4 linked regions of the Homo sapiens genome follow. The protein of the gene in region 1 purifies or fractionates together with the protein of each later gene. This does not show direct contact. Each region holds a gene or a part of one and is shown in the gene's direction. Other genes may lie near its edges. The genes, in order: CA5A, PITRM1, PMPCA and SIRT3.

Evidence for each region.
Region 2: the proteins of CA5A (region 1) and PITRM1 purify together in Homo sapiens (affinity purification with mass spectrometry; one large-scale study listed by BioGRID and IntAct). This does not show direct contact.
Region 3: the proteins of CA5A (region 1) and PMPCA purify together in Homo sapiens (affinity purification with mass spectrometry; one large-scale study listed by BioGRID and IntAct). This does not show direct contact.
Region 4: the proteins of CA5A (region 1) and SIRT3 purify together in Homo sapiens (affinity purification with mass spectrometry; one large-scale study listed by BioGRID and IntAct). This does not show direct contact.

The regions. Positions count from the first base shown.
Region 1 is NC_000016.10:87,933,676-87,937,817, reverse strand, and holds the start of CA5A (carbonic anhydrase 5A, mitochondrial isoform 1 precursor), read left to right. Parts: upstream 1-1,288; 5' UTR 1,289-1,367; coding exon 1,368-1,509; intron 1,510-4,142. UniProt on the Homo sapiens protein: Mitochondrial carbonic anhydrase that catalyzes the reversible conversion of carbon dioxide to bicarbonate/HCO3.
Region 2 is NC_000010.11:3,162,771-3,166,335, reverse strand, and holds part of PITRM1 (presequence protease, mitochondrial isoform 2 precursor), read left to right. Parts: coding exon 1-107; intron 108-808; coding exon 809-923; intron 924-1,001; coding exon 1,002-1,098; intron 1,099-2,450; coding exon 2,451-2,611; intron 2,612-3,565. UniProt on the Homo sapiens protein: Metalloendopeptidase of the mitochondrial matrix that functions in peptide cleavage and degradation rather than in protein processing. Has an ATP-independent activity. Specifically cleaves peptides in the range of 5 to 65 residues.
Region 3 is NC_000009.12:136,417,127-136,420,691, forward strand, and holds part of PMPCA (mitochondrial-processing peptidase subunit alpha isoform 1 precursor), read left to right. Parts: coding exon 1-88; intron 89-890; coding exon 891-983; intron 984-1,428; coding exon 1,429-1,547; intron 1,548-1,701; coding exon 1,702-1,792; intron 1,793-1,917; coding exon 1,918-1,980; intron 1,981-3,565. UniProt on the Homo sapiens protein: Substrate recognition and binding subunit of the essential mitochondrial processing protease (MPP), which cleaves the mitochondrial sequence off newly imported precursors proteins.
Region 4 is NC_000011.10:229,832-233,396, reverse strand, and holds part of SIRT3 (NAD-dependent protein deacetylase sirtuin-3, mitochondrial), read left to right. Parts: coding exon 1-54; intron 55-181; coding exon 182-414; intron 415-2,690; exon of another isoform or gene 2,691-2,844; coding exon 2,845-2,945; intron 2,946-3,565.

The DNA.
Region 1 (4,142 bases):
CAAAAAAAAAAAAAAAAAGAAAGAAAGAAAGAAAGAAAGAAAGAAAGAAAAGAAAAGAGGCTGGACGCAGTGGCTCATGCCTGTAATCCTAGCACTTTAGGAGGCCGAGGTGGGTGGATTGCCTGAGCTCAGGAGTTCGAGACCAGCTTGGGGAACACAGTGAAACCCCGTCTCTACTAAAAATACAAAAAATTGGCCGTTGTGGTGGTGTGTGCCTATAATCCCAGCTACTCAGGAGGCTGAGACAGGAGAATTGCTTAAACCTGGGAGGCAAAGGTTGCAGTGAGGCAGGATCACGCCATTGCACTCCAGCCTGGGCAACAGAGCGAGACTCCATCTCAAAAAAAGAAAGAAAGAAAAGAAAAGAAACGAAGAAAAGAGGCTGGGCGTAGTGGCTCACACTTGTAATCCCAGCACTTTGGGAGGCCGAGGCAGGCAGATCACCTGAGGTCAGGAGTTCAACACCAGCCTGGCCAACGTGGTGAAACCCCATCTCTACTAAAAATACAAAAAATTAGCTGGGCATGGTGGTGGGCGCCTGTAATCCCAGCTACTCAGGAGGCTGAGGCAGGAGAATTGCTTGAACCTGGGAGGCAGAGGTAGCAGTGAGCCGAGATCACGCCATTGCACTCTAGCCTGGGCAACAGAAGTGAAACTCTGTCTAAAAAAAAAAAGAAAAGGAAAGAAAGAAAGGTGGCCCTGTTAATGTTTATGCCAAGACAGCAGGCATGACCTGGAAGTGTCCGAAGCCACAGGGCATCTTGCTTCCGGGGAGGATGAATGAATCAAATCGCACCTATTTTAAGGCAAGCAAGGACTCCATGACTTCAGGAGCCCTGGTGGGTGGACAGAAGCTCCCTGCTCCCCTGGCCTGTCTACCCAGCAGCGCTTTGGCCAGTCCCATTCCTGTACTTCTGAGCCTGCCTGCCAGTCCCTCCTCACATGCACACCATGGCTTTGTGCCTGGTATTGAGTGTCCCGGAGCCCCAAACCACACGGTCAACCCCATGAAAGAAACAGGGACTCTGCTCTCATCCACTCGCCCCCGCCTCCCGCGTAATCCCCTGGTGCTCACGCAGCCCCACCGTACAGTTTTTCTAGCTCCCTGGCAGACTTGTGCTCCTGTTTGCCAGATCAAAGCCCAGTGACCTGAGTGGCCTGTCCCCAGCAGAGGCCACTAATCCCTGTGGACCCACCCTGTTGGGAAAGGCATGGGTTGAACTTTAACCATTAGGCTCAGGGGTTGGGATGAGTTTCTACAAAAAGAGGTGGGTACACGCCAGTCCACAGTGGTCCTGATCAAAGTGAGAACAGACAGCAGGGAACATCACCCTCTTCAGACTGGAGTCAGTGGGAACAGACCCAAGATGTTGGGGAGGAACACTTGGAAGACCTCAGCTTTCTCCTTCTTGGTTGAGCAGATGTGGGCCCCTCTCTGGAGTCGTTCGATGAGGCCAGGGCGATGGTGTTCTCAGCGTTCCTGTGCATGGCAAACCAGCAATAACACTTGTAAGTAGAGCCTCAAATTTCCTAAGATGCGACTGGATCCTTGTCTTAGCTGATGGGGTCTTTCGAGAGGAGAGAGGAGAGACCGTCCCGAGCCAGATGGGTTCAGATTTCCACTCCGTTTTTTTTTTTTTTTTTTTAAGATGGCGTCTCGCTCTGTGGCCCAGGCTGGAGTACAGTGGCGTGATCTCAGCTCACCACAACCTCCACTTCCCGGGTTCAAGCGATTCTCCTGCCTCAGCTTCCTGAGTAGCTGGGACTATAGGTGCATGCCACCACTCCTGGCTAATTTTTCGTATTTTTAGTAGAGACAGGGTTTCACTGTGTTAGCCAGGTTGGTCTCGAACTCCTAACCTCGCGATCCGCCTGTCTCAGCCTCCCAAAGTGCTGGGATTGCAGGCATCAGCCACGGCGCCCGGCCCTCTTTTTTCTTTTTTTGATGAAGTTTTGCTCTTTTGCCCAGGCTAGAGTGCAATGGCATGATCTCGGCTCACTGCAACCTCTGCCCTCCAGGTTCAAGTGATTCTCCTGCCTCAGCCTCCAAAGTAACTGGGACTACAGGCACCCGCCACTGCACCCAGCTAATTTTTTGTATTTTGGTAGAGATGGGGTTTCACCATGTTGGCCAGGCTGGTCTCGAACTCCTGACCTCAGGTGATCCACCCACCTTGGCCTCCCAAAGTGCTAGGATTACAGGCGTGAGCCACCGCGCCTGGCCACACTCCGTTTCTCTTGTATTTGGTGACCTTGGGTGAATCATTTAGCCTCCGTTTCAGGGGTCCTGGGGAGGGCAAGATGCTGGGAGCAGGCGGGTAGTCCGTGTTCGCACGGGACACACTGGCACGACTCACCATCCAGACCCGGCGGAATGGGCTGCACTAACCAGTCACGATCGCTCCTAAACTCTTCGGCAGAGAACGCTTTCAAGCAAACCTGTAACAAATAAACCACTCAGCCAGCTCTGCCAAGAAACTGCCCCGTGCCAGCCCCTCCTGGCTTCATGGTCAGTGCCTTGTGACCTTGAACGAGGCCCTTCCTCTTTCTGGGTCTCAGGTGCTTCCTCCGTAGAATGAGAGCCTGCTTTGGCAGCTGCCAAGTTCTCTTCTAACTGAAATCTTCCATGCATTCCATGTTTGGGCCATTGAAAGAGCATGGGCTTAGGAGCCAGACCCCAGGCATGCAGTCCGACTGACGCTTGCTGAGGTGGAGCCTCGGCAGGTCTTCACCCCCAAGCCTCTGTGTCCTTATCTCGAGATGGGGGTGGCCAGACTTTCTCTCCAGGGCCATGGAAGGATGACACGATGCGTGTAGAAAGCCTGGCCCACCCCAGACTCTGAGTGAGCTACACTCATTCCTCCTGTTGGGGTCCACACCTGTGGACTGGAGTGCAGTGGTGCGATCTCGGCTCACTGCAGCCTCTGCCTCCTGGGTTCAAGCGATCCTCTTGACTCAGCCTCCCAAGTAGCTGGGACTACAGGCGTGTGCCACCACGCCCAACTAATTTCTGTATTTTTAGTAGAGATAGGATTTCGCCATGTTGGCCAGGCTGGTCTCAAACTCCCGACCTCAGGTGGTCTACCTGCCTCGGCCTCCTAAAGTGCTGGGATTACAGGCGTGAGCCACTGCACCCACCCCCCTTTTTTATTCTTAGTACGACCGTCAAGAGCGCTAGCCTGCCTAGATTGGAATCTTGGCCCCACTGCTCTATGGCTGTTGCCCCTCTGTGACTTTCCTTTATTTTTTGAGACTAATTTCTGTCTTGTTGCCCAGGCTGGAGCGCAGTGGTGCGATCTCCAGCTCACCGCAACCCCCACCTCCCAGGTTCAAGCAATTCTCCTGCCTCAGCCTCCCGAGTAGCTGGAATTACAGGCATGCGCCACCACATCCGGCTAATTTTGTATTTTTAGTAGATACAGGGATTCTCCATGTTGCTCAGGGTGGTCTTGAACTCCCAGCCTCAGGTGATCTGCCCGCCTCAGCCTCCCAAAGTGCTGGGATTGCAGGCGTGAGCCACCACGCCCAGCTGTCCCCTCTGTGACTTTCTTAACTTCCCCCAGCCTTGGTTTTGTCGTCTGTAACAGGGGGTTGATAATGGTGCTTACGGCACAGTGTCGTTGGGAGAAGGGTCCGAGGTGGGGCCTGCAAAGGCTGGGGACAGCACATGGCTCCAGGAAGCCCTTGCTAGACGCCAGCTGCTGCTGTTGCTAACACAGGCAGCGGTGGGTGCCCTGTGTCTATTTAAGCATTTCCCTGTCAGTGGGCAGCAGGTAGCATTCCATTTCTTACTGTGGCAACATGTCCTCTTACATCGTGTGCTAGAGAGAGTCATATTCTGTATCGGCACCTAAATCCATTTACACCATGGTCCTCAACCTGTTCCCAGTGAACAGAGGGCTCTGCCAAATCATTTCAGAGTTCCACAAAGAGCAGAATATTCTGCCAAGCAGAGAAGATTGGAACATCATAAGGAATTCATCCTTCTATGTCGGTGTTTTATTTATGGGCATTCTGAAGATTATTTCACTTGGAAAAAGAATATTGTTACTAAAAATTATTGAAAAATCACTGGTGGTTTGGCCTTGAGAGAAAAGTCAAAGAGTTACAAAACGCTCAGTGATAATTTTAGAACCAGGCAT
Region 2 (3,565 bases), on another chromosome or scaffold:
CATTCTTGAGCATACCGTCCTTTGTGGGTCTCAGAAATATCCGTGCAGAGACCCTTTCTTCAAAATGTTGAACCGGTCCCTCTCCACGTTCATGAACGCCTTCACAGGTAAGACCAGCATCCTGAACAGAAACTGCTTTTGGGTTTGCCAGGCACACCCACTGGAATTCAGTTAGTTTCTGAGAAGGAATGAGGGGAGTGGGCAATTCATGTTCTAGAAAAATTTTTACCTCTCTCTAGTTGAAGGACATTAGAAATTTAATCCTTCAGGAAAGCCACATGGTAGCGAGATTGTAAAAACTAGCGTTTTAAGAAAACATATGTGAACTTTTCCCAGAAAAGTTCAAAACAATTTTCTCTTGGAGATATCGCTACAATGCCAGAGTTACTACTAATGTTGATGTTTGACTTTTAGTAAGACTGACGATAGTGGATAGGGTGACGATGAACAGTGCATTCTGTGGGGGAGTGACATTGAAGAGCGGGTTAAATCCATGCTGTTACAGAATGAGGTCATCTTTGTAGATGTATGAAAGTCTCTGGAGAAACTTGAGAGAGTTTAGATATTCGCTGAAGAAAGCCCTGGTGCCCGTCGAGTGCAGATCCTGAGACGGGATGGGAAAGCCGGCACTTGGGGTTATGAGCTGGGACAGCTGCTGAGGCCAGGGACCAGAGCATGGGGCCACTGCCCCATCCCAAGAATAGCTACAGCTTACTGTCCTAGGACAAAGGGGGAATGAGTCTTGAGAGTCAATAATTTTAGTAGAAATCTGTTATATTTTACAATTTCACTTTTCATTTGTACCCAGCTAGTGATTATACTCTGTATCCATTTTCCACACAAAATCCCAAGGACTTTCAGAATCTCCTCTCGGTGTATTTGGATGCCACCTTTTTCCCATGTTTACGCGAGCTGGATTTCTGGTATGTCATGAATGATTAACTAGTTGATACAGACTTTAGTATTTGAGTCACTATCAGCTTATAATGATTTGTCCTCAGGCAGGAAGGATGGCGGCTGGAACATGAGAATCCGAGCGACCCCCAGACGCCCTTGGTCTTTAAAGGAGTCGTCTTTAATGAGATGAAGGGAGCGTTTGTAAGTTTTCTTCCTTTTTTATGTTGTGTTCAGCTTACCTTTCCCATGTACAATATCATGATATAGACACATCTGGAAGATTTTATTTAATATTCTCATTATAGGTGATACATTCTTGAATTAGCTGGGGTCAGTGCTGTGAGCAGAAGTCGGGGTAGCAGGGCCAGGCTGCTGTTCTTCCCAGCAGGTCTCAGACCATGTCTGGGGACCCCTGGTATGTGATCTGCAGCAAGTCTGTGAGATAAAAGCTATTTTCATACCACTACCAAGACAGTGTCTTTTCATTCATTCTTGCCCAAGTACACGGTGTACTTTCTAGAGGCTGCATGGCAAGGTGTGTGACACACAGCGAGCTGCATACAGAGCAAATGGGGGAGTCCAGCTTCACCTCTGAGCCAGACGCTACAGAGATTTGCAAAAAAGGCAACACAGCACCACTCTAATCAGTTTTTTACTTTGTTATGAGAAGTATTTTTCAAAAATATTTATATCAACATGTAATGATGGCTTACCTTAATGAATAAGTATTTTTTAAATGTCTCAGCTTTAATTTAGAATATAGAAAAATTATATAAACACACACAGGCACCTACACAGGCAAAAACGCCCACATAATCAAAAGCTGTTTGGGTCCTCATTAAAACGCATTTATGCCTAGTGTTCCATTATTGGCACCCTAAGCTTGTGGGAGTTATTTATGTCCTACAGCTCAAGGTCATCGCCAAGGTCTGATTTTTTACAAAAAAATTGCAACCTCAGGCATAAATGGGTTAATTTTTCAGAGTGTAAAGGATTCTTGAGACCATTTTGGATTAAGAGCTGCTGTCCTGGGCCCATGTCTTCATGTCCCTTTGTGACTTGGACAACCTGTCTGTCCTGGTGTCCCTGAGGCTCATGGGTGGCCTGCTCTCTGATTCCCGTAGCTCCTCTCGGCTGGTGAACTATTTCTTACCTTTTCATTCTCAATTTGGTGGTCTTTTCTTCCAAGGAGTCTTCTTGAACTCAAGTTGGGGTGACAGCTTCTCCCCACTTCCCTCACGGCTGGTGGGCAGACCGACTGATCCATCCCGATTTACAGCCCTCAGCTATGCGTTTGTTGCACCACACATCAAAAAATCCATTGTTCTTCTCAATCCTTGGGTCCTGTGCGTGGGTGATGAATGATTGAATACCGTGTTAAACAATGCCTGCGTGGGTGTTTTTTTTTTTTTTTTAAACCATTAGAACAGCTTTATTTGCAAAGTATTACAGGTGTATGCACCAGAATGTGATCAATTGGCTATATTGTAAGTAATGTAACGTGTGTATTATTTTACATGTATACTTATGATTTATTTATTTTACGTTTCAAGACAGACAATGAGAGGATATTCTCCCAGCACCTTCAGAACAGACTTCTTCCTGACCACACGTACTCAGTGGTCTCCGGGGGTGACCCACTGTGCATCCCGGAGCTTACATGGGAGCAGCTTAAGCAGTTTCATGCCACTCACTATCACCCAAGCAATGCTAGGTAATATTTTGTTGGAAAAGTTTGATGGTGGATTGTGAAAAGTTGACTTGTTTGTGTTCTTAACAGTTTATGGCATGGCTTCTCTCACATTTAGCAATGCTTAAGAAATATCTAAGTCTAGGTAAGATTCTTGGCCTAAGTTTGCCTATCTTACTTGGACATTGATTTTGGACATTTACAATGATAGCCCTCAGGAGGCTCAGCATGGTGGTTACAAACACAGCGTTTAGAGTCCCCCAGAGGAGGGTCCTGGCCCCGCAGCCTGTTGCCTCACATCTAGCTTGGTTGCGTGGAAAGTGGGGGTGCATGGATGGTGCCCACCTTGACACGGGGTGTGAAGCTTGAAGCCCTCTCCTTGGCACGGAGAAGTGCTCTTCCAATAGTGGATGCAGTTACTGAACCTTAATTACATCCTCACTTTCTGATACATTGCTTGTTCTTATGTCACTAATACAAGGTCATTATAATAATAATATAGTCATATATCTTATATAAAACACTAATTGTATTTACATATGAATGCTAATGTAAAAACATATTTGCAAGATTATTTTATGTAAAAATAATTATGAAAACTTGAAGCATACAGAAAAGTAGAGATACTAGAATAATGAGCCCCTAAACACTTATCATGTAATAGATATCCTTTCCCTTGCTGAAGTTTTTGGAAGTAAATTATAGACGTCATGATCATTTGCCCGTAAATGTTTGAATTTGTGACCCTAAAACGTGAGGATTTTTTCTTACATGAGCTAATGCCATTTTCAGTTTTAATAGAATAAAACATACTTTCTTAAAACTGCCTATTTCTTATTCCATATTCAGATTTTCTAGTTGGCCCCAAAGTGTTTGTTGCACGGGGTCCCACAGGTCACACCTGGTCGGCCCGGGTTTCTCCTGGGCACCCTCTAGGGGACGGCAGAGGAGTGTGCAGGCCCAGTTTCTTTCTGGCGC
Region 3 (3,565 bases), on another chromosome or scaffold:
CCTCCTGGGGGTCCAGCCGGCCTGGGGGAGCGCAGAGGCCGTGGATATTGACAGATCTGTGGCCCAGTACACTGGGGGGATTGCCAAGGTGAAGTAGCGGGAACGTCTCATGGCCTCGGGTGGGGAACACGTCCCCTGGCCCGTGGTGTGACCTGTTTTTGTATTGATTCTGAGGGTGATAGGTGTTGACTGCATGTGTAGCTTTGCCTTAACACATGCTGTAGTCCCACAGCAGGGCATGGACTGTGTCCCCTGCTGAGAATGAGTGCTGCTAGGCCTGAGAGCAACACAAAAGGTGGATGCGGTTCTTTCTCTAGGGGAGTGGGTCTGCCACTGCGTGTTGCATTTTTTTTTTTTTTTTTTAGAGATGGAGCCTCGCTCTGTCACCCAGGCTGGAGTGCAGTGGTGCAATCTCGGCTTACTGCAACCTCCACCTCCCAGGTTCAAGTGATTCTTCTGCCTCAACTTCCCGAGTAGCTGGGATTACCACCACGCCCGGCTAAATTTTGTATAGAGATGGGGTTTCACTATGTTGGCCAGGCTGGTCTCGAACTCCTGACCTCATGATCTACCTGCCTCAGCCTCCCAAAATGCTGGGATTACAGGCGTAAGCCACCACGCCCAGCTTATATGTATATACATATGTTTTTTTTTTTTTGTCTTTTTGGTAGAGGTGGAGTTTTGCCACATTGCCTAGGCTGGTCTTGAACTCCTGGACTCAAGTGATCTGCCCACCTTGGCCTCCCAAAGTGCTGGGATTTTAGGCATGAGCCACTGTGCCTGGCTGGCATTGGATTTCTGTGTAACCACTCTGAAGATGATCTCATCTGGGGTTTGCGAGCCCTCATTGTTTTTCACATGGCGACACTTGCTTGTTTTCTTGGTTACAGCTAGAAAGAGACATGTCCAATGTCAGCCTGGGCCCGACCCCCATCCCCGAGCTCACGCACATCATGGTTGGACTGGAGAGCTGCTCCTTCCTGGTGAGTCCTGGTGCTGGGTCTGATGGCGTTCCTGATGCAGTGTGGCCGGCTCAGCCAGCCCTGCCCTCTGTCCCTGGCATCCGACAGCGCTCCTGATGGGGCGTGGGCGGCTCAGCCAGCTCTGCCCTCTGTCCCTGGCATCCAGCAATGCTCCTGATGCAGTGTGGGCGACTCAGCCAGCTCTGCCCTCTGTCCCTGGCGTCTGACGGCGCTCGTGACACAGCGTGGGTGGCTCAGCTAGCTCTGCCCTTTGTCCCTGGCATCCGACGGCGCTCCTGACGCGGCATGGGTGGCTCAGCCAGCTCTGCCCTCCGTCCCTGGCGTCCAGCGGCGCTCCTGACGTGGCTTGGGCGACTCAGCCAGCTCTGCCCTCCGTCCCTGGCGTCTGACGGTGCTCCTGACGTGGCGTGGGTGGTTCAGCCAGCTCTGCCCTCCGTCCCTGCAGGAGGAGGACTTCATCCCCTTTGCAGTGTTGAACATGATGATGGGCGGAGGTGGCTCCTTCTCGGCTGGTGGGCCCGGCAAGGGCATGTTCTCCAGGCTCTACCTCAACGTGCTCAACAGGTGGGTTGCACTCTTTTCTGTATCCTCAGGCCACCAGGCCAGGCCAGGTGTGTTTTTGGACCATGAGGCCACCTTCCAGGTGACTTTTCTCCAGTTTCCCATGGCCTGATCCTGGCGAGTCCCCTTCACTCCCATGACTCTCGCTTCCTCCCAGGCACCACTGGATGTATAACGCGACCTCCTACCACCACAGCTACGAGGACACTGGCCTCCTTTGCATCCATGCCAGCGCCGACCCAAGACAGGTGAGGGCCCCGCCTGCCACCGTCCTCAGTGCGGTTGCCTGTCCAGACCTGGGCGTCCCTGCCTAGACGGGTCAGTAGGCCGGCAGGCGCAGGCCACACTGTTATCGTCTTGCCCTTCTTCGCAGGTTCGAGAAATGGTAGAAATCATCACAAAGGAGTTTATTTTAATGGGCGGAACCGTGGACACGGTAAGTGCAGTGTGGCGCCATTTCCAGGCGTACCTGTGGTGTCTGACAGGAGACAGCCACGTTGTAGGAGTGGCCACCTGTGGGCCTGGTCCCTGAGCCTCAGGGCCAAGGTCCCGGCAGGGCAGGGCAGGGCAGGGCGGCCAAGGAGGCACAGCCTGGGGCTGAGCTGCTCCACCTGGGAGCCCGCTGAGGCTGTTCTTCCCTGGTCCAAACCCCGAAAACAGAAAAACAGACCACCGCCCTCCCCCAGTGCTCGGTCCACTACTTCTTTCTCTGAGCCACTGGGTGAGTCGTGGGACTGACCATGTGACTCTCTCAGCTTTGCTGGCGAAACGCTGCAGGAGTTTTTGTGTCCTTCTCAGCCGCCTCTGTGAGGTGACTGGGGTGAAGCAGCTCGCACAGGTGGGCTGCAGCGTGGGGTGTCTCGAGCCTTTCCCTGGCTCCATTCTATGTTTGAAACTGTATTTGTTTACCAATTTTTTTTTGTTCTTTTTAAGATGGAGTCTCACTGTCTCACCCAGGCTGGAGTGCAGTAGCTCAAATTCGGCTCACTGCAACCTCCACCTCCCGGGTTCAAGCGATTCTCCTGCTTCAGCCTCCCAAGTAGCTGGGATTACAGGCATGCGCCACCATGCCTGGCTAATTTTTGTATTTTTAGTAGAGACGGGGTTTCGCCATGTTGGCCAGGGTGGTCTTAAACTCCTGACCTCAAGTGATCCGTTGCCTTGGCCTCCCAAGGTGCTGGGATTACAATTACAGGTGTGAGCCACCATGCGTCCCTGTTTACTAATTTTTTAAGCTTAGTTTTTGATGCTTTACACATTTGGGAACCTCGTTACTTCCTGGACCAGAAGTGGTACAAATAAGCAAGTTTTATACACACACTTTTTTTTTTTTTTAGACAGAGTCTTGCTCAGGCTGGAGTGCAGTGGCATGATCTCAGCTCACTGCATCCTTCCACCTCCCGGGTTCAGGTGATTCTCCTACCTTAGCCTCCTGAGTAGCTGGGATTACAGGCATGTGTCACCACCCTAGCTAATTTTTTTGTTTTTTGTTTTCTGTTTTTTTTTTTTTTTTTTGAGACGGAGTCCTGCTCTGTTGCCCAGGCTGGAGTGCGGTGGCATGATCTCAACTCATTGCAACCTCCGCCTCCCGGGTTCAGGTGATTCTCCTACCTCAGCCTCCTGAGTAGCTGGGATTACAGGCACCCACCACCACACCTGGCTAATTTTTTGTATTTTTAGTAGAGATGGGGTTTCACCATGTTGGCCAGGCTGGTCTTGAACTCCTGACCTCAAGTCATCTGCCCATCTCGGCCTCCCAAAGTGCTGGGATTACAGGTGTGAGCCATTGCACGCAGCCCCATGGCTAATTTTTGTATTTTTAGTAGAGACAGGGTTTCACCACGTTGGCCAGACCGGTCTTGAACTGCTGACCTCAGGTGATCCACCTGCCTTGGCCTCCCAAAGTGCTGGGATTACTTTGGGATCCCGGTGTGAGCCACCGTGCCCGGCCAGGAAAAAAAGCATTCAAGAAATAAAGTTGTGGTTAAATTAATACGCTTCAGTTCCACTAGTGCACTGCT
Region 4 (3,565 bases), on another chromosome or scaffold:
GGTGGTCATGGTGGGGGCCGGCATCAGCACACCCAGTGGCATTCCAGACTTCAGGTACTGCCCACAGTCCCACCTGCCTTCTGCGCTCCCCTCCCCTGACTCCTGCCCTCCCCACTGCCCAGTTTATTCCACTTCCCTGTCCTCTTCCAAAGGCCTCAGAGCCTTTCTTCTCTCCCTGCAGATCGCCGGGGAGTGGCCTGTACAGCAACCTCCAGCAGTACGATCTCCCGTACCCCGAGGCCATTTTTGAACTCCCATTCTTCTTTCACAACCCCAAGCCCTTTTTCACTTTGGCCAAGGAGCTGTACCCTGGAAACTACAAGCCCAACGTCACTCACTACTTTCTCCGGCTGCTTCATGACAAGGGGCTGCTTCTGCGGCTCTACACGCAGAACATCGATGGGCTTGAGAGAGGTGAGCCCTCTGTGAGTCGCACACATTCTTTTTCTCCCACGGAGGCTCGGGTGCCTGTTTCTCCCAGGGAGGCTCGGGTGCCTGTTTCTCACAGGGGATGCTCGGGTGCCTGTTTCTGGGGACGGCCAAAACCTATCGCTTATGCTTCTTCCTTGGGACTTTTTTTGAGCCAACTAGTTAGGGCTTTGTTCCCAAGGAAAATGTCCTCTGGGTGTTTAAAGGCCACTGCTTGTTCTCCTGCATACCTGCAGAGCTGTGTATTTTGGGCAGAAGTTGACATTGTTTTGCCAATCTGGTGTGATGATCTCTTTTTTTCTTCTCTCTTTTAAGAAGTGTATTATGGAATTTTTTTGAGCACACACAAAGAGAGCAATGTAACGAACCGTCCTGTCCTCATCACCAGCACACAGCCAGTTCTTCCTGCGTCCTCACCACCTTCTTCCAAATCCCCAGATTATTTTGAAGCAAATCTCTCACATCATGAATTTAATCTAGAAATAATCTATAAACACATGAATGGATAGCTCTAGAGAATACTTTAAAAACAACTCCGGCCGGGTGCCGGATTACAGGTGTGGGATCACACCTGTAATCCCAGCATTTTGGGAGGCCGAGGCAGGTAGATCACCTGAGGTCGGGAGTTCGAGACCAGCCTGGCCAACGTGGCAAAACCCCGTCTCTACTAAAAATACAAAAAATTAGCCAGGCGTGGTGGTGTGTGCCTGTAATCCCAGGTACTCGGGAGGCTGAGACAGGAGAATCTCTTGAACCCAGCAGGCGGAGGTTGCAGTGAGCCGAGATCGTGCCACTTCACTCCAGCCTGGGCGACAGAGGGAGATTCTGTCTCAAAAAAATAAATAAAAATAAAAATAATTAAAAAATAAAAACAACTCTGATAGTGATTCACACTGAAGAATCACTAGTAATTCCTTAATATGGTCACACTTAGTCTGTGGTGATTTCTTGACCGTATCCATATGGTGCCCAAACCAGCGATTCACAGGTTGTGCCAACTTCTGGCCGTGCACCTAACGGAAGCACTTGGTGGGGCCTTTTCCTTACGTGCAGTGATGCAGACAGGTGCTGGGACAGTCAGCTCTCCGGGAGCCAGGCTCCCGGAGAGACTGCTGATGTGTTGTCAGTTAAAAAGAGGTGGCACCTTGGCTCCAGGAATGTGTTTCCTTGCCAGAAGGATCCCCTGACTTGGAACCACAGAGGCAGCAGCGGATGCCCCATGTTGGTGGGCTCTTCTCCCAGAGGTGCAGCAGGGCAGGCCTTGTGGGAAGGTGGGAGCTCCTGGCTGTGAGATTCAGCACTGCTGAGTTAGGGCAGCGACAGGGACTTGGGAAGCCTCCTGCAGCTGGGACCCTGGCTGTGCCACCGCAGCCTTTCAGAACCAGTTAATACTAACACAACTTTCATAAGAAGTCACTTTTTGTCTGTTTCTACCAAGCAATTCTTTTGGAATTTATGATATTTATATCCTCATTTTAACTTGGTATCTGTAGAATAGAAGATATGTTCCTGGATATTAGATATAAATTTTTGAGACAGGGTCTTGGCTCTGTTGCCCAGGCTAGAGTGCAGTGGCATGATCATAGCTCACTATAGCCTGAACTCTTGGGCCGAAGTGATCCTTTTGCCTCAGCCTCTGGAATAGCTGGGACTACGGGCATGCACTACCATGCCTGGCTAATTAAAAAAATTTTTTAAGACAAGTCTCACTATGTTGCTGAGGCTGGTCTCAAACTCCTGGCCTCAAGTGATCCTCCTGCCTTGGCCTTCCAAAGCACTGGGATTACAGGCATGAGCCACTGCACCCAGCCTGGTATTAGGTGTAATTTTTTTTTTTTTTTTTGAGACAGAATCTCGCTCTCTTACCCAAACTGGAGTGCGGTGGCACGACCTCAGCTCACTGCAACTTCCACCTCCCGGGTTCAAGCGATTCTCCTGTCTCAGCCTCCCCGAGTAGCTGGCACTACAGGTGCCTGCCACCACATCTGGCTAATTTTTGTATTTTTAGTAGAGGTACGGTTTCACCATGATGGCCAGGCCGGTCTTGAACTCCTAGCCTCAAATGATCTGCCCACCTCGGCCTCCCAAAGTGCTGGGATTACAGGTGTGGGCCACTGTGCCCGGCTGGATATAATTTTATTTGAGCTTTTATCAAATGGTTTTTCGTACTGAGTTTTGACAGGCTTTGTTTTAACCGTGATTTGGCTCCAGCTAGGTGCCCCTTTGCTCCCCTGCCTTATTCTGGTTGATGGCGCATGTAGGTGATACGGGCATGAAAACCAGGCTTGAGGACATCACAACCCCAAGGGGCTGTGCCTCCTTCCAGGAGTCCTGCCAAGCCCAGAAGTTGTGCTCTTGGCCTTGCGTGCTCATCTCGGAGGCGGCAGCAACACTTCGCTTTGGCTTGAATTTCAGTGTCGGGCATCCCTGCCTCAAAGCTGGTTGAAGCTCATGGAACCTTTGCCTCTGCCACCTGCACAGTCTGCCAAAGACCCTTCCCAGGGGAGGACATTCGGGTGAGTTATCCTGCTGTTGGTTGTCCTTCTGCAGTTTGCTGTTGGGGTGATCTGGAAAAGTGGTATTTTATAAGCATTGTCTCGAAAGGACAGTTGAACAATAATAGTGTGAAACATTTTATTTGTAAATTAGAAAATCAATACATGCTTGTAAAAAAATTTAAGACAATATAGAAATATGTAGGGAAAATGAATCTCCCTTCAGCCAATTCCAGCTGCCCACTTTTTTTTTTTTTTTTTGAGATTGAGTCTCACTCTGTCGCCCAGGCTGGAGTGCAGTGGGCGATCTCGGCTCACTGCAACCTCCGTCTCCCGGATTCAAGGAATTCTTCTGCCTCAGCCTCCTAAGTAGCTGGGATTACAGGCGTGAGCCACCACGCCCGGCAATCAGATGGCCTTTTGTGCCGAGCTTATTTCCTGAAAATGTTTCTCGCTCCTTCGCCTTGTAGCTTGTGTTAGTATTTCATCCTGTTTCATGGCTAAATGTTCCACTGATGTATGCACCACAGTTGGTTTGTTTGTACATGGATGGGTGTTTGGGTTGTCCCACCTTTCTGCTCTTGTGTATAGTTCTGCTGTGGAGCATATGCAAGTATTCGTTTGAGAGTCCTTGTTTTTTA